Regions from separate parts of the Homo sapiens genome. Here all the other regions are linked to region 1. The links come from fine-mapping of genetic effects on gene expression. A gene starts in region 1. Each other region holds a variant in brackets. All regions are shown on one strand. Distances are from middle to middle.

Region 1 (8,152 bases):
TGGCTCCGGTGTCCCCAGCTTGGTACCACCACTGATAGCTGTCTGGAACCTGGCCTGCCTCTTCCACTAGACCTTGAGTACTTTGAGAGCAAAGACCTGGGCGATTCAACTGGGTGCCCAGGTAAACGTTAAAGAAAGCAAGCAGTGAGTCTCCCGAAACTCTGCCCTCTCACTACACTTCTTTCCCCAGAAACCTCCTATGGCTTCCTGTCATCAACAAATTCCATTCAAGAAGAATGGGAAGGCTGGGCGTAGTGGCTCATGCCTGTAATCCCAGCACTTTGGGAGGCCGAGGTGGGCGGATTACTTGAGGTCAGGAGTTCGAGACTAGCCTGGTCAACATGGTGAAACCCCATCTCTACTAAAAAATACAAAATAGCCAGGCATGGTGTTGCATACCTGTAATCCCAGCTATACATAAGGCTGAGGGAGGAGAATCGCTTGAACCCGGGAGGTGGAGGTTGCAATGAGCCAAGAACACATCACTGCACTCCAGCCTGGGCGACAGAGGGAGACTCTATCTCAAGGAAAAAAAAAAAAGAATAGGAATGGTAACAGGACTGCCCTCTTAAGAGTGAGTCTGAGCACTCATGAGATAAGCTAGTGTTCTCTCAATTTGGGCATGAGAAAAGGTTTTAGGTTATTTTTTTTTTTTTTGAGACGGAGTCTTGCTCTGTCGCCCAGGCTGGAGTGCAGTGGCACGATCTCGGCTCACTGCAAGCTCCGCCTCCCAGGTTCACGCCATTCTCCCGCCTCAGCCTCCTGAGTAGCTGGGACTACAGGCACCCGCCACCACGCCTGGCTAATTTTTTGTATTTTTAGTAGAGACGGGGTGTCACCGTGTTAGCCAGGATGGTCTCGATCTCCTGAACTCATGATCCACCTGCCTCCGCCTCCCAAAGTGCTGGGATTACAGGCGTGAGCCACGGCGCCCGGCCTTAGGTGGTTCCTAAATAATTATATATCTATTTTTATACAGTGACTTTGTCTTTGCCAAATGATACCAGTTTTCCATTCATGGTAGCAATTTGCTTCCTTCTCAGATAAATTTAAGAAAAAAAGTCCTAGACTCAAAGAATATGTTAAGCAAATAATAGGATAAGCGGCTTATAGATGTGGCAAAAACCCTGTAACCGGTCATGTGAATCAGTGAAGTCTGGGAAACCTCAAGCTGAGTCCTATCATGATCAGTAAGCTCAGCACACAGGAAGGACTTAAGAAGCATGAGCTTTACAATGCAATATATATTTAGTGGAAAAGGGAACGGGTTGGGGTGAAACAAAAAAAAAAGAAGGCTCTGGAAAAGGCTGAGAAGGAGATATACCCAGCCACAAGCAGCCAGGGAGCCAGGGGGCCTGGCAGGAGAGACAGGAGATGGGGAGGGGCACAGAGTGGGAGGAAGCACCTTCTGAAGCTTTGGCTTGCTTGCTGATATACTCCTCAATCTTCATCATAATCTCAGCAAACTGTAGGAAAGGAGAAGACAGTCAGAATCCAGCACTCTTCAAAAAGAAGCCTGTATCACCCCCTTCTGGGAGATTCTGTCTAGAGCCCCCTGCTAGGAACACCTCTTGTCCTCTTACCATCTTACTATCCCATAGCTTGGCGATGGTCTTGACTGAATCCCCGGAAAGATCCAGCTGTGTCTCCTCCTGCACATCCTCGATCGCTGGCTCCTCTTCTTCCTCCCCATAGCTTCCTCCTTCCTCCTCTTCTGCTGCCTCTTCGAGATCAGCTAAGAGCTCATCTGCCAGAGACATCCCGAGGCCTGGGGAGGGACAGCAGCGTTCCCTAAAAACTTGCCCCGACAAAGTCCCTCCTTATTACTGAGCGATGATTCTCCCCCAGAAGACCCTGGTCCTTCTTTATCAACCCCACTAGCATGCAGGCTCCACGACAACAGGTGCTTTAGTTTGTTTTGTTCACTGGCGAGTCTCCAGCTCCGACCTGTGCAAGACGCAGCACACCCCTATGACCGCCACCTTGCTAAGACTTACTGGAACCAAGTGGTGTAGATTCCAAATGCATTTGCAAACTTTCTTATTCCTTTCTTGCCTTTAGCCTTGAAAACATACTTTGAAATTCTTTGTTTCCCTCCTTTCCCACTAGATACTGTCTTGCACTGCTGGCTTATCTATGTGCTTACTTAGAAGTTCCAGGGGCTAATCTTTATTTATTTATTTTTTAAAGATGGAGTCTGGCTCTGACACCCAGGTTGGAGTGCAGTGGCGCAGTCTTGGCTCACTTGCAACCTCCACCTCCTGGGTTCAAGCGATTCTCCTGCCTCAGCCTCCTGAGTAGCTGGGACTACAGGCACCTGCCACCATGCCCAGCTAATTTTTTTTTTTTTTTTTTGTAGAGTCAAGGTTTCACTATGTAAGCCAGGCTGGTCTTGAACTCTTGACCTCAAGTGAGCGACCCACCTTGGCCTCCCAAACTGTTGGGATTACAGGCGTAAGCCACCGCGCCTCGCCGCAGGGGCTAATCTTGAAACAAACTAGGTATGGAAACCCAGCTGCAAAACTCCAGAGATCACCTCAAGGCGATCAATCTACAACGTGGCCATTGTTGACTTGACACCAGCCCATGCTCCAGGTGGCCCGTGACTCAAGACAGCCTTCGGAGCAAGACACACATACCTTGTACCCAGCACCACTCCTGTATGCCTCCCATTCAAAGTTCCCCTTTTTAAGCCCCTCTCCCCAGCCTAAAGCTTGAAATGGTCTTCTAAAGACATTAGCTTGGCCATTTCTCATCTGCGAGCATTTGATCAGTAAAGCTGCTTTACTTTCACCACCCCCCACTTCCTCTGCCTCTGAGTAGCAGAAACTTGAGTTGGTTACATTATCGGTCTCTTCCCGCCTCCAGGTCTTTGTACAGGAGTCCCTTGTAACTAAAGTGGCCCTTTCCTTCACTTTGTTTTTTCTTTTCTTTTCTTTTTTTTGAGACCATGTCTTGCTCTGTCACCTAGGCTGCAGTGCAGTGGCGCCATCATAGCTCACGGCAGCCTCGATCACCTGGGCTCAAGCGATTCTCCCGCCTCAGCCTCCCGATAGCTGAGATGACAGGCACGCACCAGCACGCCCGGCTAATTTTTAAATTTTTCTGTAGAGACAGGGTCTCACTGTGTTGCTCAGGCTGGTCTCAAACTCCTGGGCTCAAGCGATCCTTTCGCCTGGGCCACCCAAAGTGCTGGGATTACAGGAGTGAGCCATGGCGTCTGGCTCTCCTCACTTCTTAGTAGCCCAGCATCTCCTCAGCCTTCAGCTCTCACGTTCCACCTCCCTGACCCACACGCCCCACTCTAGACTACAGGAGGTTGCTTTGTGATAACGTGTCCCGCACGCTCTGCGTGTCTACAGTAAGGCACTTCACACATTTGTGATTAATGAAGTAATTATTTGATAAAGCCTGTCTGCCAGGCATCAACCAAAGCTCTAAGAGGGTAGCGAACAATTTTTGCTCCTTCCACATCCCCAGGGCCACACCATGGTAGGCGCATATTAAGACTTTTGGGTAAACAGGCTGTAAAAGGCCGGGAGCGGTGGCTCATGCCTGTAATCCCAGCACTTTGGGAGGCCCAGGCGGGTGGATCATCTGAGGTCAGGAGTTGGAGACCAGCCTGGCCAACATAGTGAAACCCCGTCTCTACTAAAAATACAAAAAACTAGCCGGGCGTGGTGGTGCGCGCCTGTAATCCCAGCTACTCGGGAGGCTGAGGCAGGAGAATCGCTTGAATCCGGGAGGCGGAGGTTGCAGTGAACCGAGATCGCGCCACTGCACTCCAGCCTGGGCAACAAGAGCGAAACTCCGTCTCAGACAAAACAAACAAACAACTGGCCAGGCGCGGTGGATCATGCCTGTAATCACAGCACTTTGGGAGGCCGAGGCGGGCGGATCACGAGATCAGGAGTTCGAGACCAGCCTGACCAACATGGGGAAACCCCGTCTCTACTAAAAATACAAAAATTAGTCAGGGGTGGTGGCGGGCGCCTGTAATCCCAGCTACTCTGGAGGCTGAGGCAGAAGAATCGTTTGAACCCGGGAGACGGAGGTTGCAATGAGCCGAGATCGCGCCACTGCTCTCCAACCTGGGCAACAGAACGAGACTCCGTCTCAAAACAAACAAACAACAAAAAAACAAAAACCAAGCTGTAAAGACCCGCCTTTTTCCTCACACACTTCTTCTCCCAGACCCAGGAGCCCAGCCTCCCGCTCCCCGTGGTCCCCATCACACTCACCTCTCCTCTCCGCGCACCACTGTTTCTAGCGTTAGTCGCTCACCGATGACGTCTCACTCTCGCGCCGTTATAGAGGCAAAGCTACTCTCTGATTGGTCCCCGCTCGCGATGTTCCTGGCCGCATTTGAAACAACAACTTTATTAGCACCTGGCACTAGGCGGAGAGAGGCGGTAAGCCGCGAGGAGGAAAGGGACTCACGTCCCGCTGTGGACCGATCCTGCTAAGCAGAGAATCGCTGTGGCCGGACGACGGGGCGTCGAGACAAGAAGAAAGACGTTGGCAACTCAGAGGACTGGTTGCGGCGTTAGACAAGAAAGCAAGGCCTTTAAGCAGGGATTCGGGGTGGACGTGGGGGTGGGCCGAAGCGAAGCCGGAAACAGGAAACTACAACTCCCACAAGGCCTAGGGCCACGTCCCGCCGTCCTCGGCTGCTGAGCCTGATGGGACAAGTAGTTTTGCGAACGGCTTAACCTACAGATTGAAGAGGTCGGAAGCTCTGAGGCCCGGGGCTTCCGGAGGTCGCGGAGATGGAATTGGAGCAGAGAGAAGGGTATGTGGCTGAGCCCTTGTGAAAAAGTGCGAATCCCAGAAAACAGTGCAGCTGCATTGTGTGCAACCATATGAGCTTTTACGCTGAGGTCTGATGGGGGTTGTAGTTCATGCAACTGCTTTACCTTAGAACCCTTTTATGGACTGGGGTCATCCTGAGGGAGGAGAAGGTTAGGGGTTTGGACTGCTGGATCTGACAGACTAGGAGGTTGGAAGCCAGGACTCTTGCGTCTGGTTGAGGGTTGGGGCTTGGACTCCCTGGGTCCTTGGAGAGAAAAAGTCTGGAGGTCTGGACTCTTGCATCCTGGGAGGAGGGGGTCAGGGCTTGAACCCTGTGGGTGCTGCGAAGGGTGGGTTGCGGACTTGGACTTCTGGGTCTGAGGGAGGAGGGCTGGGAGCTGGATTCTACGGTCTGAGGGAGGAGGGGCTGGGGGCCTGGATTCTAGGATCTCAGGGAGGAGGGGTTGGGGTCTGGGCTCCTGGTTCAGTGGGAGAAGGGGCTGGGGGTCCAGGATCCAGGGCCCCTGAGCCTTTCCCTGCCTCTCAGGACCATGGCAGCCGTGGGCTTTGAGGAGTTCTCAGCGCCGCCAGGCTCAGAGTTGGCGTTGCCTCCCCTATTTGGTGGCCACATCCTGGAGAGCGAGCTGGAGACGGAAGTGGAGTTTGTGTCAGGTGGTCTGGGCGGCTCAGGGCTCCGGGAGCGAGATGAAGAGGAAGAGGCAGCCCGGGGTCGGCGGCGGCGCCAGCGGGAATTAAATCGCAGAAAGTACCAGGCACTAGGTCGGCGCTGCCGGGAGATCGAGCAGGTAGGTGAGTGCGGATCCCCCGGTTTTGGGGTCCCCTGGCCTAAACTACCGCCCCCCGCAATCTCTGCCTTTCCACATGCCCAGCCTTTCTTGGCTTGCTGATATATTCAGTCATTTAGCTTATATATTCAGTCATTTAGCATGCATTATGTGTCTGGCCCTGTGCCGGGCCCCTGGAAGGGCCATCTCCCGTGGAGCTTCCCTGACAACGCAGATGGGTTCTCTGATGTCTCCCGGGGGCCTCTCAATGCGTGGCACCGCTCACAGGTGAAAGCCCAAGCTCTTCACATCTCCCATACCCCTGCCAGGATTCACTCCTCTCGACTCATTCATTCCGCCTCTTGAGTGTCTCTGGACCCTTCTCCTCTCCTCCATCCCTATGGCTGCCATTGCAAACTCCAGCTGTCTGGGCTGAATGACTGCAATAGCCTCCTTGCTGAGAATAAGGATGGGCTGGGCATGGTGGCTCACGCTTGTAATCCTAGCACTGGGAGGCTGAGGCAGGCGGATCACCTGAGGTTAGGAGTTCGAGACCAGCCTGGCCAACATGGTGAAACCCCATCTCTACTAAAATACAAAAAAATTAGCCAGGTGTGGTGGTGCGCACCTGTAGTCGCAGCTACTAGGGAGGCTGAGGCATGAGAATTGCTTGAACCCGGAAGGCGGAGGTTGCAGTGAGCCAAGATCATGCTGCTGTACTCCAGCCTGGGTGACAGAGTGAGACTCCGTCTCAAAATCAATCAATCAATCAATGAGGATTAAACAGCAGGCAGGGCTCAGATCTTGGCAGGCCAGGAACACCAGGACAAGAAGTCTGGATATTTTTTTTTCCTTGAGAGTGAAGGAGCCACTGAAGGGTTTCAAATGGGGGAGGAACAGCATCAGGTCTGGATGCCTGAAACTCTGAAGACAGTTGTATTAGTCTGCTTGGACTCCCAGAACTTATCACAAATAGGGTCCCTCAAGCACAGAAATTCCTGTCTGACAGTTCTGGAGGCTAGACATCCAAGGCAAGGTGTCGACAGGGTTGTGAGAATCTTCCAGGCCTCTCCCCTGGCTTCTGGAGGTTTCTGGCAGTCATTGGCACGTACAAACATCACCCTGATCTCCGCCTTCATCTTCACATTGCTGCTCCCTGTGTGTGTGTCTGTGTCCCAATTTACCCTTTTTATAAGGACTCCAGTCATACTGGATTAGGGCCCACCCACTGGCTTCATTTGAACTTGATTACTTTTGTAACGACACTGTCTCCATATAAGGTGATCCTGAGGTACTGGGGGTTAAAGCCTCAACACCCTCTTTTGGGGGAAATAATTCAACTTTTTTTTTTTTTTTTTTTTTTTTTTTTGAGGTGGAGTCTCGCTCTTGTCTCCCAGGCTGGAGTGCAATGGCACCATCTCAGCTCACTGTAACCTCCACCTCCTGGGTTCAAGTGATTCTCCTGACTCAGCCTCCCTAGTAGCTGGGATTACAGGCGCCCGCCACCACACCCAGCTAATTTTTCTATTTTTAGTAGAGACAGGGTTTCACCATGTTGGTCAGGCTGGTCTCAAACTCCTGACCTCAGGTGATCTGCCCACCTCAGCCTCCCAAGGTGCTGGGATTACAGGCTTGAGCCACCACGCCTGGCCTTCAACTCTTTTTCTCTTTCTTGAGACAGGTTCTCACTTTGTCACCAAAGCTGGAGTGCAGTGGCGCAATCTCAGCTCATTGCAGCCTCAGTCTCCCAGGTTCAAGCAGTCCTCCTGCCTCAGCCCCCAAAATAGCTGGGACTACAGGCACACACCACCACACCTGGCTAATTTTTGTACTTTTTGTAGAGATGGGGTTTTGCCATGTTGCCCAGGCTGGTCTTGAACTCCTGACCTCAAGTGATCCACTCGCCTTGACCTCCCAAAATGCTAGGATTACAGGCATGAGCCACCACATCTGGCCTCAATTCTTAATGACAGTATTGGGGAGTTCTGTAAGGAGGAAGGCTAGAGGCCAGGGGCATATTCCAAACCCTGTTTAACAGACAGACACCAAGGCCCAAACGGACTCAACTGGAGCCTCTGCCATTAATCCACCCCCAGGAATAGATTACTACTATTTTACAAGTATAGAAAATCAAGGCTCAGAGAGGTTAAGTAATGCACCCAAGCTCAGAGCTCAGCAGTGGCAGATCTGAGATTTTTTTTTTTTTTTTGAGACAGGGTCTTTCTCTGTTGCCCAGGCTGGAGTGCAGTGGCATGACTGTGGCTCACTGCAGCCCCAACATCCTGGACTCTAGCAATCTCAGCCTCCGAAGGAGCTGGGACTACAGCCACCAAGCCCAGCTAATTTTTTTGGTTAGTTTTTGAGTGTTGGGGTCTCACTCTGTTGCCCAGGCTGGTGTCGAACTCCTGGCCTCTCAAAGTGCTGGGATTATAGGCATGAGCCACTGTGCCAAGCCAGAGCCAAAACTTGAACTCTTTTTTTTTAGATGGATTTTCGCTCTTGTTGTCCAGGCTGGAGTGCAATGCTGCAATCTCAGCTCACTGCAACCTCCGCCTCCTGGGTTCAAGCGATTCTCC
Region 2 (8,174 bases), 86 kb after region 1:
TATGGGCTGAATTACATCTCCTCAAAATTCGTGTGCTGAATCCTAACTCCCAGTAACTCAGAATGTGACTGTATTTAGAGACAAGAGGCCGTTGTGAAAAAAGGAAATTTGGACATAAAAAAGACACTAGGGGCTACGTGTGGTGGCTCACGCCTGTAATTTCAGCACTTTGGGAAGCCCAGGTGGGCGGATCGCCTGAGGTCAGGAGTTCAAGACCAGCCTGGCCAACATGGCCAAACCCCATGTCTACTAAAAATACAAAAATTAGCTGGGCGCGGTGGTGCACGCCTGTAATCCCAGCTACTCGATAGGCTGAGGCAGGGGAATCGCTTGAATCCAGGAGGCAGAGGCTGCAGTGAGCTGAGATCGTGTCATTGCACTCCAGCTGGGCAACAGAGTAAGACTCCAACTCAAAAAAAAAAAAAAGAAAAGGACACCAGGATATGTACATCCAGAGGAAAGACCACGTGGAGACACAGCAAGAAGGCGGCCATCTGCATACAAAGCAGAGAGACCCCGGGAGAAACTGACCCTACTGGCACCTCCATCTTGGATTTCCAGCCTGCAGAACGGTGAGAAAATCCATTTCTGTCCCATAAGCCCCCCAGTGGGGGGCATTTTGTTATGGCTTCCCTAGCACACAACTGTAGGTGGTAAACATATTTTAAACATTATAGTGATCATTTGTAAAAAAAAAAAAAAAAAAAAATTCAAAGAAATATATTTTCTACAGCTTCTCTTTATGATACCCTATGTTCCAAAGGCTACCTATTGTATTTTCTAGAAGACTATAAGAATTTTTCACACATGCTGGGGCCTGTCAGAGGGTGGAGGGTGGTAGCAGAGAGAGGATCAGGAAAAATAACTAGTGGGTACTAGGCTTAATAACTGGGTGATAAAATAATCTGATAATCAGGAAGTAGTAAATACACTAGAAAAAAAATAATCTGTACAACAAACCCCCATGACACACGTTTACCCGTGTAACAAACCTGCACATCCTGCCCATGTACCCCTGAACTTAAATGTCAAAAAAAAAAAAAGAATTTTTCTAGTATCATGCCAGGCTCTGTGGTTCATGCCTGTAATCCCAGCACTTTGGGAGGCTGAGGCAAGTTGATTGCTTGAGCATAGGAGTTCGAGACCAGCCTGGGGAAAATGGTAAAACCCTGTCTATACTAAAAATACAAAAATTAGCTGAGCATGGTGGTGCATGCTTGTAGTCCGGGCTACTCTAGAGGCTGAGGCAGGAGGATCGCTGGAGCCCAGGAGGTGGAGGCTGCAGTGAGCCATCATTGCACCACTGCACTCCAGCCTGGGTGACAGAGTGAGACCCTGTCTCAAAAAAAAAAAAATCAATTTTTCTAGTGCTATACATTTAATTTTTTTTTCTGTTATGAACATTAGGTTTCTTTGCCTTATTGTTTCAAATTCTTTGGAAGCATTGTTCAATCAATCACATGAGCACAATAGTTGGTACAAAACAGTCATTATTTTGAAAGACCATCACCTGATATGAACAGTTCATTCATAAACTTGAGCCTTTTTTTGTTTTTGTTTTTGTTTTTGAGACAGAATCTTGCTCTGTTGCCCAGGCTGGCGTTCAGTGGCACGATCTCTGGTCACTGCAACCTCCACCTCCCAGGCTCAAGTGATTCTCCTGCCTCAGCCTCCCAAGTAGCTGGGATTACAGGTGCCTGCCACCACGTCCAGCTAATTATTTATTTATTTAATTTATTTTTTGAGACGGAGTTTCACTCTTGTCACCCAGGCTGGAGTGCAGTGGCACGATCTTGGCTCACTGAAACCTCCACCTCCTGGGTTCAAGCAATTCTCCTGCCTTAGCCTCCTGAGTAGCTGGGATTACAGGCGCCCACCACCATGCCGGGCTAATTTTTGTATTTTTCGTAGAGACGGGGTTTCACCATGTTAGCCAGGCTGGTCTCAATCTCCCAGCCTCAGGTGATCTGCCTGCCTCAGCTTCCCAAAGCACTGGGATTACAGGTGTGAGCCACCGTGCCTGGCTGAGTTTGTTTTGTTTTAAAGACCTCAGGGATGTACCTCTAATTGACACTACATCACATTAATCAATAGCTGCACTTTTTGCAAACTGTGGCTATGACAGTCCTGAACAAGAAGGGTTTCCTGCTTAAGCTGCAGTAACTTTTCTGACTATGGATCATTGTTCCTTCTGTGGCAGATTTTTACACCTCCTCTAATGCATTTGGGATGACTGTCTCCAAGTAACCTGCAGCTTTCCTCACTGTCTCTCCTGCTAAGAACTGTTGCCCTTTTCTGCTGTTTTTAGAACCTTCTGTTTTCATATCCACCAGTTCCACGGCCAGATCTATAACGACCACCAGAGGGACTGCCTGAGCTTCTTCCACCAAAACTGCCCCGCATAAACTTGAGCTTTTAAGCGGCATTATATATAAGCCCTATACGAGTTTAACTTGATCTTGTTAAGGTAAACAATCTGTTCAGTCTCACTTTCTTTTTGCATTGATAATTTTAATAATGTCTGATCATTTACTTTCTAAAATCACAAATGCAGTAGCAAGTTTTGGCCAGTTTCATTTTCTTAACTTTTCTCCTCCACATGGGACATGCTACGGGAAGAGGCTTAGAATCGTGGAAAGAGGAGAGTCATCTGCTTTCAGTGCTGGATACAAGGGCAGGTTGTGTGACCTTGGGAACACGTGTTAAAATCTCCAGAACTGCATGTGCCTTTCCTCATCGTGAAGACACAGATCTCGAATAGGGTTGTTGTAGATAGTATGACCAACTGTTACCGTTTTACCAGGATTGGTGTGTGCAGGGGCGTGTGTGTGTGTCTTAGGATGTGGGACTTTCGGTTTTAAAATAGAAATGAGGAATTTCCCAGGACACAGAAATTTCAGGGCTAAACCAGAGAAAATCCTGGGCGAACCGGAACAATTTGGTTGCCCTAGTTGTAAGCACGTGAGTTGCAAAGATGTAGGTGTGATTATTCCCTTGATTCAGTAAACAATTTTTTTCTTTTTTCCCATTGCCCTATCAACCCAACTCCTAGGTCTAATTCTTTACCTGTGCCCTTGGGTGACATGTAAAGCAAGTCTCATAACTTTTTTTTTTTTTGAGACAGTCTTGCTCTGTTGCCCAGCCTGGAGTGCTATGGTGCAGTCATGGTTCACTGCAACCTCTGCCTCCCAGGTTCAAGTGATTCTCCTGCCTCAGCCTCCCGAGCAGCTGGGATTACAAGCATGTGCTACCACGCCCAGCTAATTTTTGTATTTTTAGTAGAGACAGGGTTTCGCCATGTTGGCCAGGCTGGTCTCGAACTCCTGACCTTAAGTGATCCGCCCACCTTGGCCTCCCAAAGTGCTAGGATTACAGGTGTGAGCCACTGCGCCCGGCCTTCTCATAATTTTTATAGTCATCTTAGGTCATAAAGACTTCCAGCTGCTTCTTAAAAAAGTCACATACAAGAAAAAAATACAGTGTCAGCTCAGTGATTAAAATCCTTTCGGCAGGTTGCCTGCAACGTGGAGGAAGCGTGGTCAGCTTTTCCTTTATCTCCCCACGTGGAGCTTCTCCTGCTTCCCCCACTCTCTTGCAAGGCTGCAGACCTCTCACCTGCAGTTCCCTTGATGCCTGTAAATGCAGCTCCTCCACTTGGTCACATTACTGAATCCTTGGGGATCCGTCAGTACATTTCCAGCTTCTCTCTGCAGACTTCACCTCCTACCTCCAGGTGGCGCTCCTGCAAAGGATAAAAGCTCCTGGTACATTCATTCTCATATTCATTCTCTCTCCCCCCTCTCCCCCCCTCCCCCATTTCTCCCCTCTCCCCTCTCTCCCCTCCCACCCTCTCTCTCTCCTCCCACCCTCTCTCTCCAGTGAGGAAAGACCCTGTGTTAGCCCGTTCTCACACTGCTATAAATAGCCGAGGCCGTGTGTGGTGGCTCACACCTGTAATCTTAGCACTTTGGGAGGCTGAGGTGGGCGGATCACTTGAGGTTAGGAGTTCGAGACTAGCCTGGTCAACATGGTGAACGCCACCTCTACTAAAAATACAAAATTAGCCGGCTATTGGCGCATGCCTGTTGTCCCAGTTACTCGGTAGGCTGAGGCAGGAGAATCGCTTGAACCCAGGAGGCGGAGGTTGCAGTGAGCTGAGATTGCACCACTGCACACCAGCCTGGATGACAGGGGGGCTCAGTCTCAAAAAAAAAAGAAAGAGATTTAATTGACTTACAATTCCACATGGCTAGGGTGGCCTCAGGAAACTACAGTCATGGCAGAAGGGGAAGGAGAAGCAAATATCTTCTTCACAAGGCAACAAGAGAGAGAGAAGAGCAAGCAAAGGAGGAACTTGCCAAACGCTTATAAAACCATCAGATCTCCTGAGAACTCACTTTATCATGAGAACAACAAGGTAGAAGCCACCTCCATGATTCAATCACCTCCCACCAGGTTCCTCCCCCAACACCTGGGGATTACAATTCAAGATGAGATTTGGGTGGGGACATAAAGCCAAACCATATCAGACCCCATTCCTCTCTGGACCCGCCCCTCACCCCATATAACTACTCTGAATTGTCCAGTTGAAGAGACTGTCATCCTCCATCACACATCTACGGTGGACAGAGGATGGGACTCACAGCACACCAACAGCTTACGTAAACAAACACACAGAAACAAAACAAAACAAAAACTCTTCTAATCTCTGGAGACTATTATTCTAAGTGAAGTAACTCAGGAATGGAAAACCAAACATCATATGTTCTCACTGATATGTGGGAGCTAAACTATGAGGATGCAAAGGCATAAGAATGATACAATGGACTTTGGGGACTTGGGGGGAAAGGTGAGAGGGGGGCGAGGGATAAAAGACTATAAATGGGGTGCAGTGTATACTGCTTGGGTGATGGCTACACCACAATCTCACAAAGCACCACTAAAGAACTTACTCATGCAACCAAACACCACCTGTATCCCAATAGGAAAAAAA[AT/T]ACCTTCTAATCTCAACACTCCTTTCTTTTTTTTTTCTTTTTTTAATTTTTATTTATTTATTTATTTTTATTTTATTTTATTATTATTATACTTTAAGTTTTAGGGTACATGTGCACAATGTGCAGGTTAGTTACATATGTATACATGTGCCATGCTGGTGTGCTGCACCCACTAACTCGTCATTTAGCATTAGGTATATCTCCTAATGCTATCCCTCCCCCTTCCCCCCAACACTCCTTTCTTACCTTCAGGTGGACAAGAGGCCAAGGGTGTGGGGAAATTAGGTTTTCAGCATTTTCTCCTGAAGTCATGCAGAAATGGCCTTACTGTGAGATCTGACCTCGCTGGCATCTATAATCTTTGGGCCTGAGCAGAAACTGAGATTGCAATGAATCTACTTTGACATTCTGTTATATACATGTGCAAAAACCTTGGGAATACTGGGTATGAGCAGTTTGGAAGGAGAATGGATGGTAGGAATTCATTTTCATAAAAAAAAAAAAAGCTCATGAATAAGTGCACAAGAAAATGTAAGATCAGCCGGGCACAGTGGCTCACACCCGTAATCCCAGCACTTTGGGAGGCCGAGGCAGGCAGATCACCGGAGGTCAGGAATTGGAGACCAACCTGACCAACACAGAGAAACCCTGTCTCTACTAAAAATACAAAATTAGCCGGGCGTGGTGGTGCATGCCTGTAATCTCAGCTAATGGGGAGGCTGAGGCAGGAGAATCACTTGAATCCGGGAGGTGGAGGTTGTGTTGAGCTGAGATCGCACCACTGTACTCCAGCCTGGGCATCTCTAAAATATAAAAATTAGCCAGGCTTGGTGGCGGGCGCCTGTAATCCCAGCTGCTCAGGAGGCTGAGGCAGGAGAATCGCTTGAATCTGCGGGGTGGAGGTTGCTGTGAGCCAAGATGGTGCCACTTCATTGCAGCCTGGGCGAAAGAGTGAGACTCTGTCTCAAAAAAAAAAAAAAAAAAAAAGAGAACCCAGACCTGGAGTGGTGTCTCACGCCTGTAATCCCAGTATGGTGTCTCACTGCAGCCTTGACCTCCTAAGCTCAAGTGATCCTCCCGCCTCAGCTTCCTGAGAAGCTGGACGCACAGGCAAATGCTAATTTTTAAAAACTTTTTTGTAGAGATGGGATTTTGCCATGTTGCCCAGGCTGGTCTTGAACACCTGGGCTCAAGAGATCCTTCTGCCTCAGACTCCCAAAGTGCTGGGATTATAGGCGTGAGCTGCCACACCTGGCCTCCAGAACTATTTTAAAATAAAAAGTTAAGCCAGGTGAGGTGGCTCGCTCCTGTAATGCCAGCACTTTGGGAGGCTGAGGTGGGCAGATCACTTGAGGTCAGGAGTTTGAGACCAGCCTGGCCAACATGGTGAAGCCCTGTCTCTACGGAAAATACAAAAATTAGCTGGGCATAGTAGCAGGTGCCTGTAGCCCCAGCTACTCGGGAGGCTGAGGCAGGAGAATTGCTTGAACCCAGGAGGTGGAGGTTGCAGTGAGCCGAGATCGCGCCACTGCACTCCAGCCTGGGCGACAAGAGCAAGACTCTGTCTCAAATAAATAAATAAAAAGTTAATTTTTTGGAAAGGATGAGATAAAAAGCAGACGAAGGGCATAGAAAGGCCCTTCCAACGCGGCCCTCTCCAACATGAGGAAGCCTCCCACGAGATTTCCACTCACATCTCAAGAAACACAATTGCATCCAGCCCCTTCCTTAAATAACCACTAGCAGTGGGCGTGAGTTTACCTAACTGGGCTAAAGGTGTTTAAACTTCAGTGTGCATCAGAATCACCTGGAGGACTTGTCAAACCATAGGTTGGAGAGGAGGAGAAAGGAAAAGCTCACCTTCAGAGTTTCTGACTGATTCAGTAGGTCTGGGGTGGGGCTCAAGAATTTGCCTTTCTGACGAGCTCCCAGGTGATGCTGACGCTGCTGGTTCAGGGACCACACTTTCACAACCAGCACGTCACTAAGCCTTAGACTAATCAAGATTCATGCCTGAAACTAGAAAAGGGCCAAGTCTCCAAGGAACAAGGGTGGCCAACTGACACCTGAACAAAATCAGGGTTCTCGGCTGGGTGCGGTGGCTCAGGCCTGTAATCCCAGCACTTTGGGAGGCTGAGGTGGGCGAATCACGAGGTCAGGAGTTTGAGACCAGCCTGACCAACATGGTGAAACCCCGTCTCTACTAAAAATTCAAAAATTAGCTGGGTGTGGTGGCGAGCACCTGTAATCCAGCTACTGGGGAGGCTGAGGCAGGAGAATCACTTGAATCTGGGAGGTGGAGTTTGCAGTGAGCTGAGATTGCACCACTGCACTCTAGCCTGGGCGACAGAGCAAGACTGCATCTCAAGAAACAAAAACAAAAACAAAATCAGGATTCTCTTAGCAGAGAAGATTTTGGATTTTGAGAAACACCTGTCCCTTATATCGTACGATGACTTTTCTCTTATTTTTTCTGATCTTAATATAATTATATCAGCTTCCTGGAGAAGTTCCTCCACCACATTTTCTTACTTGTTCATTTTTCTTCAGCTGTATCAATTCTGCCTTTTTTTTTTTTTTTTTTAAAGAGACACGGTCTCACCATGTTGCCCAGACTGGTCTCGAACTCCTGGTCTCAAGTGATCATCCCACCTCAGCCTCTCAAAGTGCTGGGATTACAGGCGTGAGCCACGGCACCCACCCTACTGCCTATTCTGTTAGAGGATAATGTTATATATTTTTTACCATCATGTATTTTTATACTTTTTATTTCCATAAGCCTCTTGCTTTATGGAAAATTGTTCTTGTTTCATATTGCTAATATGTGTCCTTTTTTAGTATGTTTCTTTTTTTTTCTTTTTATTTTTTGAGACAGGGTCTTGCACTGTCACACAGACTGGAGTGCAGTGGCACAATCATAGCTCACTGCAGCCTTGACCTCCCAGGCTCAAGCAATCCTCCTGCCTCAGCCTCCCAAGTAGCTGGGGCCACAGGTGTGCACCACCACACTGGGCTAATTTTTTTTTTTTTTTTTTTGTAGAGATGGGAATCTCACTATGTTGCCCAGGCTGGCTTTGTTAAGAAGTACATTTCTTATGCTAATTATAAATTCTTGATCTATCTGACACCTCCTCCCCCGAAAAAAACACTCTCATTGCTTCACCACACCAAGCAACTGAC
Region 3 (8,146 bases), 38 kb before region 1:
CCAAGGCATGACACTCAAAAAGCGTTGGCTATTGCCGTCTGGGCGCCCACAGGGGTTGGAGGTAGATGCTAGAGGTCCCCAGCTGCTGGGCAAACCGCTCAGTTCTCCAAACTGGAGGAGTCTCAAACCTGATGGGCTTTTAAAAATTTAAATCAGCCGGCTGTGGCTCACGCCTGTAATCCCACCACCTTGGGAGGCTGAGGCGGGTGGATCACCTGAGGTCAGGAGTTCAAGACCAGCCTGGTCAACATGGTATCTCTAAAAATACAAAAAAAATTAGCCGGGCATGGTGGTGCGCGCCTGTAATCCCAGGGAGGCTGAAGCAGGAGAATCGCTTGACCCAGGAGGTGGAAGCTGCAGTAAGCCGAGATTGCGCCACTGCACTCCAGCCTGGGTGACAGAGCGAGACCCCATCTCAAAACAATCAAACAAAAAGTGAATCAATCGCCTCTTGCTTTTTGGCTAAGATCAAGTGTAAAAGGTACATCAGTGGCTGTGCATGGTGGCTCACGCCTGTAATCCCAGCACTTTGGGAGGCCAACGTGGGTGGATCACCTGAGGTCAGAAGTTCAAGACCAGCCTGGCCAAACATGGCAAAACCCCGTCTCTACTAAAAATACAAAAATTAGCTGGGCATGGTGGTGTGTGCCTGTAATCCCAGCTACTCGGGGGGCTGAGGTAGGAGGATTGCTTGAACCTGGGAAGCAGAGGTTGCAGTGAGCCGAGATCGTGCCACTGCACTCGAGTCTGGGCAACAGAGCGAGACTCCATCTCAAAAAAAAGAGGTACATCAGCTCTTGTCATTTATCTGCTGTCTCTGGACTTGCTGACCCCACCCATCGCTCCTCTGCTTTGCTTGATCCCTTCAGGCTTCTCTTCAAGTCTCTCTGCAAAGATGCCTGCCTCTGAACACTCAAGTGGCTCCACTTGTCCCCTCCTTCCCCTGCTGTTACTGTACCTGCTACTGTCCCCCCAGGGGGAGCTTTGCCTCTGTTTGTCTTCCATCCCCAGCACCTGGTCCAACTGGTTCATAACAAGCCTTAGATACCTGTTCGCTTAGATACCTGTGTCAGGGAGACACACCTGACACCTTGAAAGATTATATCACATCTCTTGTATTTCCTGGCCCCCTCAGGAGAGGCAAGAGAAAGCTCTGGGCATCCTGACATACCTGGGCCAGAGTGCAGCGGAGGCACAGACTCAACCCCCTTGGTACCAGCTACCCCCAGGGCGAGGGGGCCCCCCGCCCGGCCCAGCCCCAGATGAGAAGATCAAGAGCCGTCTGGACCCTCTGCGGGAGATGCAGAAGCATCTGGGGAAGAAGAGACAGCACGGCGGTGATGAAGGCAGTCGCAGCAGAAAGGAAAAGGAGGGGTCTGAGAAGCAGCGACCCAAGGAGTAAGAAGACCCCACCTCGGCAGACCAGGGCCCAGACCTTCAGGGCTTGGCAGCAGCCCAGCATGGGCACTGCAGCGTCTCTGGTCAGGACAGCCAGGGACTCCGTGAAGGGCTGGCTAGGTGGAGAAGTGGTTCTCAGCATGTGGTCCAGGGAGCCCTAGGGGTCCTGACACCCTTTCCCGGGGTGCTGTGGTGTCAAGCCTATTTTCCTGACACTGGTGGACTTTTCCACTCGTGTTCTCAGGCATGTAGTGCAGGTTTCCAGAGGCTGTGTGATGGGGAGACACCCTCACTCTGATGGCCAATGGCAGATGCTTGTGTCCAAACTTTCTTAGTTTTCACTAATGATTTGCAGCATATTAAGAGAACCCATTTAAACAAAAGCTCTTGGGGTCCTTGGTTTTTAAGAGTATAAAGGGGTCCTGAGACCAAAGAGTTTGAGAGCTGCTGGGTTAGAGAGTAAAAGCAGGCTTCTGTCTCCAGGATGCTGCACCCCTGGTCTAGAGGGGGTACACTGCCTGTAGTCTTCTTTCCTCTAGAAAGGGAAACTGAGGGCCAGGGGGCTGCTAAGTGTGCTTTCTTGACCTGGAGAAGCATCAGATTTTAAAGACTGGGGAGGACCAAAGCCCACAGAAGGGAAGGCCAGAGACGTGCCCATGGCGTCCCAGCACCAAGTGGCTGCTTCCAGCAGGCCTAAGGAGCTGAGGCTGGGGTGTGCTGGATGCAGCGGGGCTTCCAGGCGGCAGCTCCCTCTATGGGAGAGGTTGGGGGAATGGCCTCCTAGGGGCTACCAGCTTTCTGACCTCACTCCTCTCCCCACAGGCCTCCATCCCTGGACCAGCTTCGAGCTGAACGTCTGCGGAGGGAAGCAGCTGAGAGGTCTCGGGCAGAGGCCCTGCTGGCCCGGGTCCAAGGCCGGGCACTACAGGAGGGTCAGCCGGAAGAAGACGAGACGGATGACCGGCGGCGGCGGTACAACTCCCAATTCAACCCCCAGCTGGCCCGGCGCCCCCGCCAGCAGGACCCTCACCTTACTCACTGACTCCTGAGGGGGTACAGGAGAGGCCGCTGCTGCCAGCCGTCATATAAAACTATTTATTCATAAATATTTTCCAAAATGAAAATAGGTTTACCAAAAAATGTCCCTCACTGGGGAGGGGAGGAGGGGGCAGCCCTCGCCCCCGGGCCCCCAGGGTGGGGCTGAGAGGAAAACCTCCCGGCCCCCTCCCTGCTTCCTGGGAGAGGGGGATGCCCCGTGGCTTGGGGCCTCCCTCCAGTCTTCCAGGGCAGGGCCCTCACCTGGGCAGGGGGATCAGCATGCGGGGGAAGGGGGTGGGTAGAGGGAGGGGCCGGTGTCACTGGAGGTCCCGGTCCTCCAGGTAGCGGTACTCAAAGGTGAAGCCTTCCTTCTTCCGCTGGCCCCACTTCTCGTAGTCAAAGTAGATGTAGGTGCCCTGGCCGGGGGAGAAGGCGGTCAGTGAGTGGACGAGGAGGTGGTCTGGGATCTGGGCCGGACCAACAGACAAAGGGGACAATTCTTAGGGCTGTGGATGTGTCAGGCACCGGGCCAGCTGCCCTGCACGCACACACTCTCATCCATCCTCACAAGGTTCTTCTTGGGTAGGAAATGTTATCATGCCACTTCAGCGAGGAGGAAACGGAGGGGGCCGCAGAGGTTCCACCGAAGCCAGCTGCCAGAACGGGGCCCCAGCCCCAGGTGTGAGTGCACAGCCTTCGTTTCCTCGAGGGCTGTGGCTTTTGAGCACCTCTCACGTGAGTACAGGATGCACAGCCTAGCATTTAATCTTCACAAAGACCTCGAGGCAGTGGGTACTGTCACCCTTGTTCTAGAGAATGGAACAGTCTCAGAGTCTAAATCCAAGCACTCTGCAGGGACATTTTATTGGTGACGAAGTGGTGTGGGAATTTCTGAATGACTGGATGCCCTGAAATGTACTAACTTGGAGGATGGTTTTGGGCCAAACCAGGAAAGGACAGGAAGTCTGTGGTTAACATCTGAGGACACAATGGGAGAGGACCTAGGTTCTAAATGAATGTCTTAAGTGCTTCAAAGATGGCAACCTGGGAGAACCAGGAGAGGGGACTGAGTTCTCTGAGGACAAGGACCTTGTACTACTTCATCCCCATGAAGGGGCTCGGCATCAGGGAAGTATTTGGTGGAAAAAAACATCACTGTAGAACACACCAACTGAAAGTAATTTGAAAAAAAAAATCCATGACACTGACTATGTAGCAGTCACCATTAAGTACTTACATGTTATTAACTCATTTAATCTTCATAACAACTGCATTAGGTAGGTGGTCTTCCCCCCATTTTTACAGATAAGTTAATTGAGACACAGAGGTTCGAGTGACTTGCCTAGAGTCGCCCAGCTGGACTGGGCTGAAACCCAGGTAGGTTGGTTCCAGAGTGTTTGCAAGCAGCAGGAATTTCCCAGTATTAGAACTTGAGAAGCCCATTCAAAAAAAATAGTTTCCGCACTGAGCCCCTGCCCTGCTGAGTGCTGGGACCTGGAGGTGAAGTGGGGGCCATCAAGGTCCCTCGGCAGCAGAGCCCACAGCCTGGTGCAGGGACACATACTGGGAAAATCCCACACCCCA[G/A]GCGAGTGTGCCCAGCACTGCAAAGGGGAGGCACTGGGCTGGGTGGCTCCAGGAAGGTTTCTTTGAGGAAGGGACATTTGGGCTGAGACCTACAGGAGGCCTAGGAGCTGGCCAAGTGGAGGATGAGAGGGCGGTGTTCCAGGCTGAGCAGACAGCCAGAGGGAGGAGTACTTGGTCAGGCTGAGGGACTGCGCCAGCTGAAAGGTGGAGGCAAGGGAGCAGAGGCCAGCAGGGGCTGCCTGGAGCCTGGGGACTCTACCCCAACCCTAGCAGCGGGAAGAGAGGGGGCGGGGCCCTCACCTGCTCAAACTCGTCAGTGATGGTCTTGGGCTCCTCGTGCCTCTGGAACCACATCATGTACTTGGTGTGGAATCGCCATGACTGCTTCTTTAGGGCCTTGGCTGCCAGATACTGTGCCTTAGTGCCCTGGGGGAGGAACAGTGGAGAGGGGGATCAGGGGGCCCCCAAACTGGGTGGGGAGCCAGGGGAATGGGGCAGGACATCAGGGCTGAACCCCGGCCCCCGCCACAGACCACAGTTGGGCTGGACAATCCTCTTGGAGATGGGGCTGGGGGCACAGAACATACCAATGCTGATCAGGAGAAGGAAAATGAGACAGGAGGTGAAAATTGCTTTCAGAGAAGCTTTGAGAAGGAAGAAAAACTAATGTGTGATGAGAGCTGAGAGAGGAGGCAATTTAGAAAATTTCCCAAGTGGGGATGAGGGTGGAGGTCACTCATGACTCACTGGGGTTGGGAGGGGGCTGGACAGCTCCCCAGTGGTCTCCAGGGAGGCCTGAGAATGTGCCAATGAGCAGAGTGGGGTCGGCCTAGACTGGGGCTGCTGGAGCAGGGCTGGGGAGGGGCCGCGGGTGAGCCAGTGGGCAACTGGAAGCGGGGCTGAGGTGTGCCTCAGTGGACCAGCCTCGCTGTCAACCCAAGCAGTTCTAACATCTCTGGGCTGGAAGGCGGGGACGGGGACAGGTGGATTTGGGGCAGGGGCCCAGGAGTGGGAATAGGGAGGGGGTGCGGTCCCAGTGGCCGCAGTGGGGCACCCACCTCACCCCTCCAGCCCGAGGGGGGACGGCGGCGGTGGCGGCGAAGCCGGGGGGCCCGAGGCTGCCCCGGGGGCCCTGCTGTACCTCCAGATAGTAGAAGATGAAGAAGAGTGTCTCGGTCGACAGGCGCTGGTAGAATTCCACAGTGTCCGAGTGTGGGGGTGGCATCTGGTGGTGGTAGGGGGGCGTCGGACAGGGGTTCCGGGGGAGGTACTGCCTGTGAGAGCAACAGGAAGGTCAGTGCCAGCTGCCTACTAGTCCTGTCGTGATCAAAAGGGTGCTCAGACATGCATCCCTGCGGGGGGAGGTGGTACAGAAAGACCCAGGGCGGTGCTGACCTTCAGTGGAGAGCCCAAGTCAGGGGCCTGGTGCTCTACCCACAGCCTCACAGGTTCAGCCACTGCCTCCTCCGTAAGACTCAAGTCCCAGACCATCCCCCTTCCCTGTGGCCCCTCACCGAATACGCTCAGAGTCAGAGGGGTGAGGCATGTGGTGCCAGGCGGCCTCTTCCATGGCCTGCTGATAGAGCTGCTCCTTGGTGAGGGGCACAGGGCCCAGTGGACAGACACCCAGCGACAGCGGTATGTTCACCTCTGACAGCTGCAGGGGCGGCTGGGCTGAGGCCGGAGGTGCTGATGTACTGCTCAGGATGATGTCTGTGGGGAGGGTGGGGGTCCGGCCCCCTCAGTGGTGAGGATGGGTCAGGGGCAGCCCCTCCTCTTTGGCCCGCTGCTTCCCCACCATCCTGGGTCCCTCACCTCGCTCGGTCAGGTGCAGCGTTGGCACAGGGTCCTCAATGCCAGAGCTGATGGCTGCCCGTTCCGCCATGGACTTCAAGGAGCTCAGAGGCTCAGGGGCCTGGGGAGGAAACAAGAGGCCTGGCCTGAGCACTTGGGCTGCAGGAGCAAGTGCAGCCTGACACAGGCCCCAGATGCTCTCACCTGCCCTGTTTGGGGGCCGTGGAGGGCCAACGACCCACTCCCCACAATCTACCCATGACAGGTAAAAGCATCAAACTGTAGGGAAACAATCGGAGACCACGACGCATTCATCAGCAGAGGAACGTCTCGTGAGTGGGACTCTGCAGCATGGAATACTACGCCGAGATTTTCAAAATACAAGTTCGTGACATACTACAGAAGTAAACGCCAACCTGCAGAATATGTACAGTGCGCTACCATTTTTGTCAAAGGATGTGCCAATAGTACACGCTCCTTCACTAGGGACACCTACACGCTGGGAGAGCTCCCGCCTGTCTTGAAGGAGGCAGGAGGTCTACATGCTCAGCTGTCTGCCTGTGACTGGCATGGGGTGACTGGAATCGGGGTGGGCCCAGCCCGGCTAGGCTTCAGTCTCCTTGCTGGAAACAGGTAGGTTGGGTCTCCAGCCCCGCAGCCACAGCCTCGTTTCCTATTACAAAGGTTACAGCAGGCTTCTGTTCCCCAAAGTCAGGGCTGGTTCCTCCCATCTCCTCCAGCCACGTGCAGCTGTCCCAAACCCCAGCCCTGTGCTGGACTCTCCACAACGAGTCAGTCGCCAAGGCTTATCCATCCTGTCTCGCTATATCGCCCAGGCAGGTCTCAAACTCCTGGGCTCAAGCTATCCTCCCGCCTCTGCCTCCCTAAGAGCTGGGATTACAGGTGTGAGCCACCACGCCCAGCTATCCGTCCTGCTTCTAAACCCCACTGGATGGCTCCCTTCCCTGTCGTGCCACCATGTCCCACACAGCCCAGGCCTGTCCTCTCCTGCCCAGACCACCCTCCCTCTATCCTGTCCTCACCAGCCCCAGGGGACCTTTCCAATGAAGTCATGTTGTTCCTTCTCTACTCCAAACCTTGCCATGGTTCCCGACCACCCACCCCAGCGATTCATTTTTGTTGTTGGTGGTGTTAAAAGATATGGACCCCTTCTGAAAATCTCAAAGCTGCTGTTTCCCTTTTTCCAGAAAAATGCACGCACTATAAATATCCTGTCCACCTACTTCTAAAATTTGGGCCGGGCACGGTGGCTCACACCTGTAATCCCAGCACTTTGGGAGGTCAAGGTGGGTGGATCACCTGAGGTTCGGAGTTCAAGACCTGCCTGACCAACATGGCAAAACCCCATCTCTATTAAAAATATAAAAATTAGCCTGGCGTGGTGGCAGGCGCCTGTAATCCCAGCTACTCAGTAGGCTGCGGCAGGAGAATCGCTTGAACCCAGGAGGCGGATGTTGCATTCAGCTGAGATTGCACCACTGCACTCCAGCCTGGGTGACAGAGCAAGACTCTGTCTCAAAAAAGAAAAAAAAAAAAAATTAATGCTTCTGTTGGGCCAGAAACTGTTCCAAGAGCTTTATGAGGATGATTTAGTCTTCCAAATAACCCTACATAGTAGGTATAATCGTGACTATTGCCGTTTCCCAGATGAAGGCACAGAAAGGACAATGCCAAGACTTGGACCTGGACAGCCTGGGCGCGCACACTGCCTCCTGGACAGCCTGGGCGCGCACACTGCCTCCTGGACAGCCTGGGCATACACACTGGTCCCCCCATGGAAGCTGCGCTACAGTATACTGGCTCACAAGCCAAGCCCCAGCTCCTGACCCTCGATGATCAGGACCCCACCGTCCTATCCTGCTACACCCACTATCTCAGCCCTGCAGCTGGTGGCACTGTCTCCTGCAGAGTGGACACCTCTCTCCTCTCTGCTGCATCCTGCCCAGCTTCCTAAGCACACAGGCAGATGCATGCTCCTCCTAAAGCACCTCCTGAAGCCCTTCCTGCAGCTGTTAGCCCCCCTGCCTGGTCCAGGTCTCAGCTTAAACATCACCCCCTCTCAGACCTTCCTGGGCCTGTCTCCCAGGTCAGGTCAGATGCCCCTCGGTGGGCCCACCGCAACCTTCCCTGCAGCTGCCCCAGCAGGGAAGCTTCCTAAAGGGTGGAACCAGGCTGCATTCACCCAACCAGTCTTTCTACTTGTGCAGAAAGTACACCAGTCTATGCCTTGTGAGGACAAACGGGGACAGAAACTGAGGGCCTGCGGGGGGGATGAAGATGGAGACCCAGAGAGAGCAAGCAACAAGTGCAA

What was found. PIP is the estimated chance that this variant, and not a neighbour inherited with it, causes the effect.
Region 2: its variant is fine-mapped to the expression of PRPF31 in thyroid (GTEx, PIP 0.96).
Region 3: its variant is fine-mapped to the expression of PRPF31 in lung (GTEx, PIP 0.95).

The regions. Positions count from the first base shown.
Region 1 is chr19:54,111,887-54,120,038 of GRCh38, reverse strand. PRPF31 (pre-mRNA processing factor 31) reads right to left here and starts at 4,285. Exons shown (of 14, transcript NM_015629.4): 1 at 4,242-4,285; 2 at 1,584-1,768; 3 at 1,406-1,466. The coding sequence starts at 1,760. It overlaps TFPT (TCF3 fusion partner), which reads left to right and starts at 4,382. Exons shown (of 6, transcript NM_013342.4): 1 at 4,382-4,792; 2 at 5,339-5,597. The coding sequence starts at 4,770. PRPF31-AS1 (PRPF31 antisense RNA 1) reads left to right here. Exons shown (of 4, transcript NR_186329.1): 4 at 1-529. RefSeq lists an enhancer at 5,223-6,096.
Region 2 is chr19:54,025,635-54,033,808 of GRCh38, reverse strand. No RefSeq gene overlaps it. Among named protein-coding and RNA genes, the nearest start is that of VSTM1, 34 kb to the left of the region's middle. The variant AT/T (reference allele first, on the strand shown) is at 4,994.
Region 3 is chr19:54,150,015-54,158,160 of GRCh38, reverse strand. It overlaps CNOT3 (CCR4-NOT transcription complex subunit 3), which reads right to left. Exons shown (of 18, transcript NM_014516.4): 14 at 5,836-5,935; 15 at 5,535-5,733; 16 at 5,162-5,294; 17 at 4,321-4,446; 18 at 2,480-2,852. The coding sequence ends at 2,754. It overlaps LENG1 (leukocyte receptor cluster member 1), which reads left to right. Exons shown (of 4, transcript NM_024316.3): 3 at 1,136-1,398; 4 at 2,221-3,000. The coding sequence ends at 2,440. LOC102724273 (a long non-coding RNA gene) reads left to right here and starts at 5,934. Exons shown (of 4, transcript XR_001754001.3): 1 at 5,934-6,447; 2 at 7,483-8,146. The variant G/A (reference allele first, on the strand shown) is at 4,021.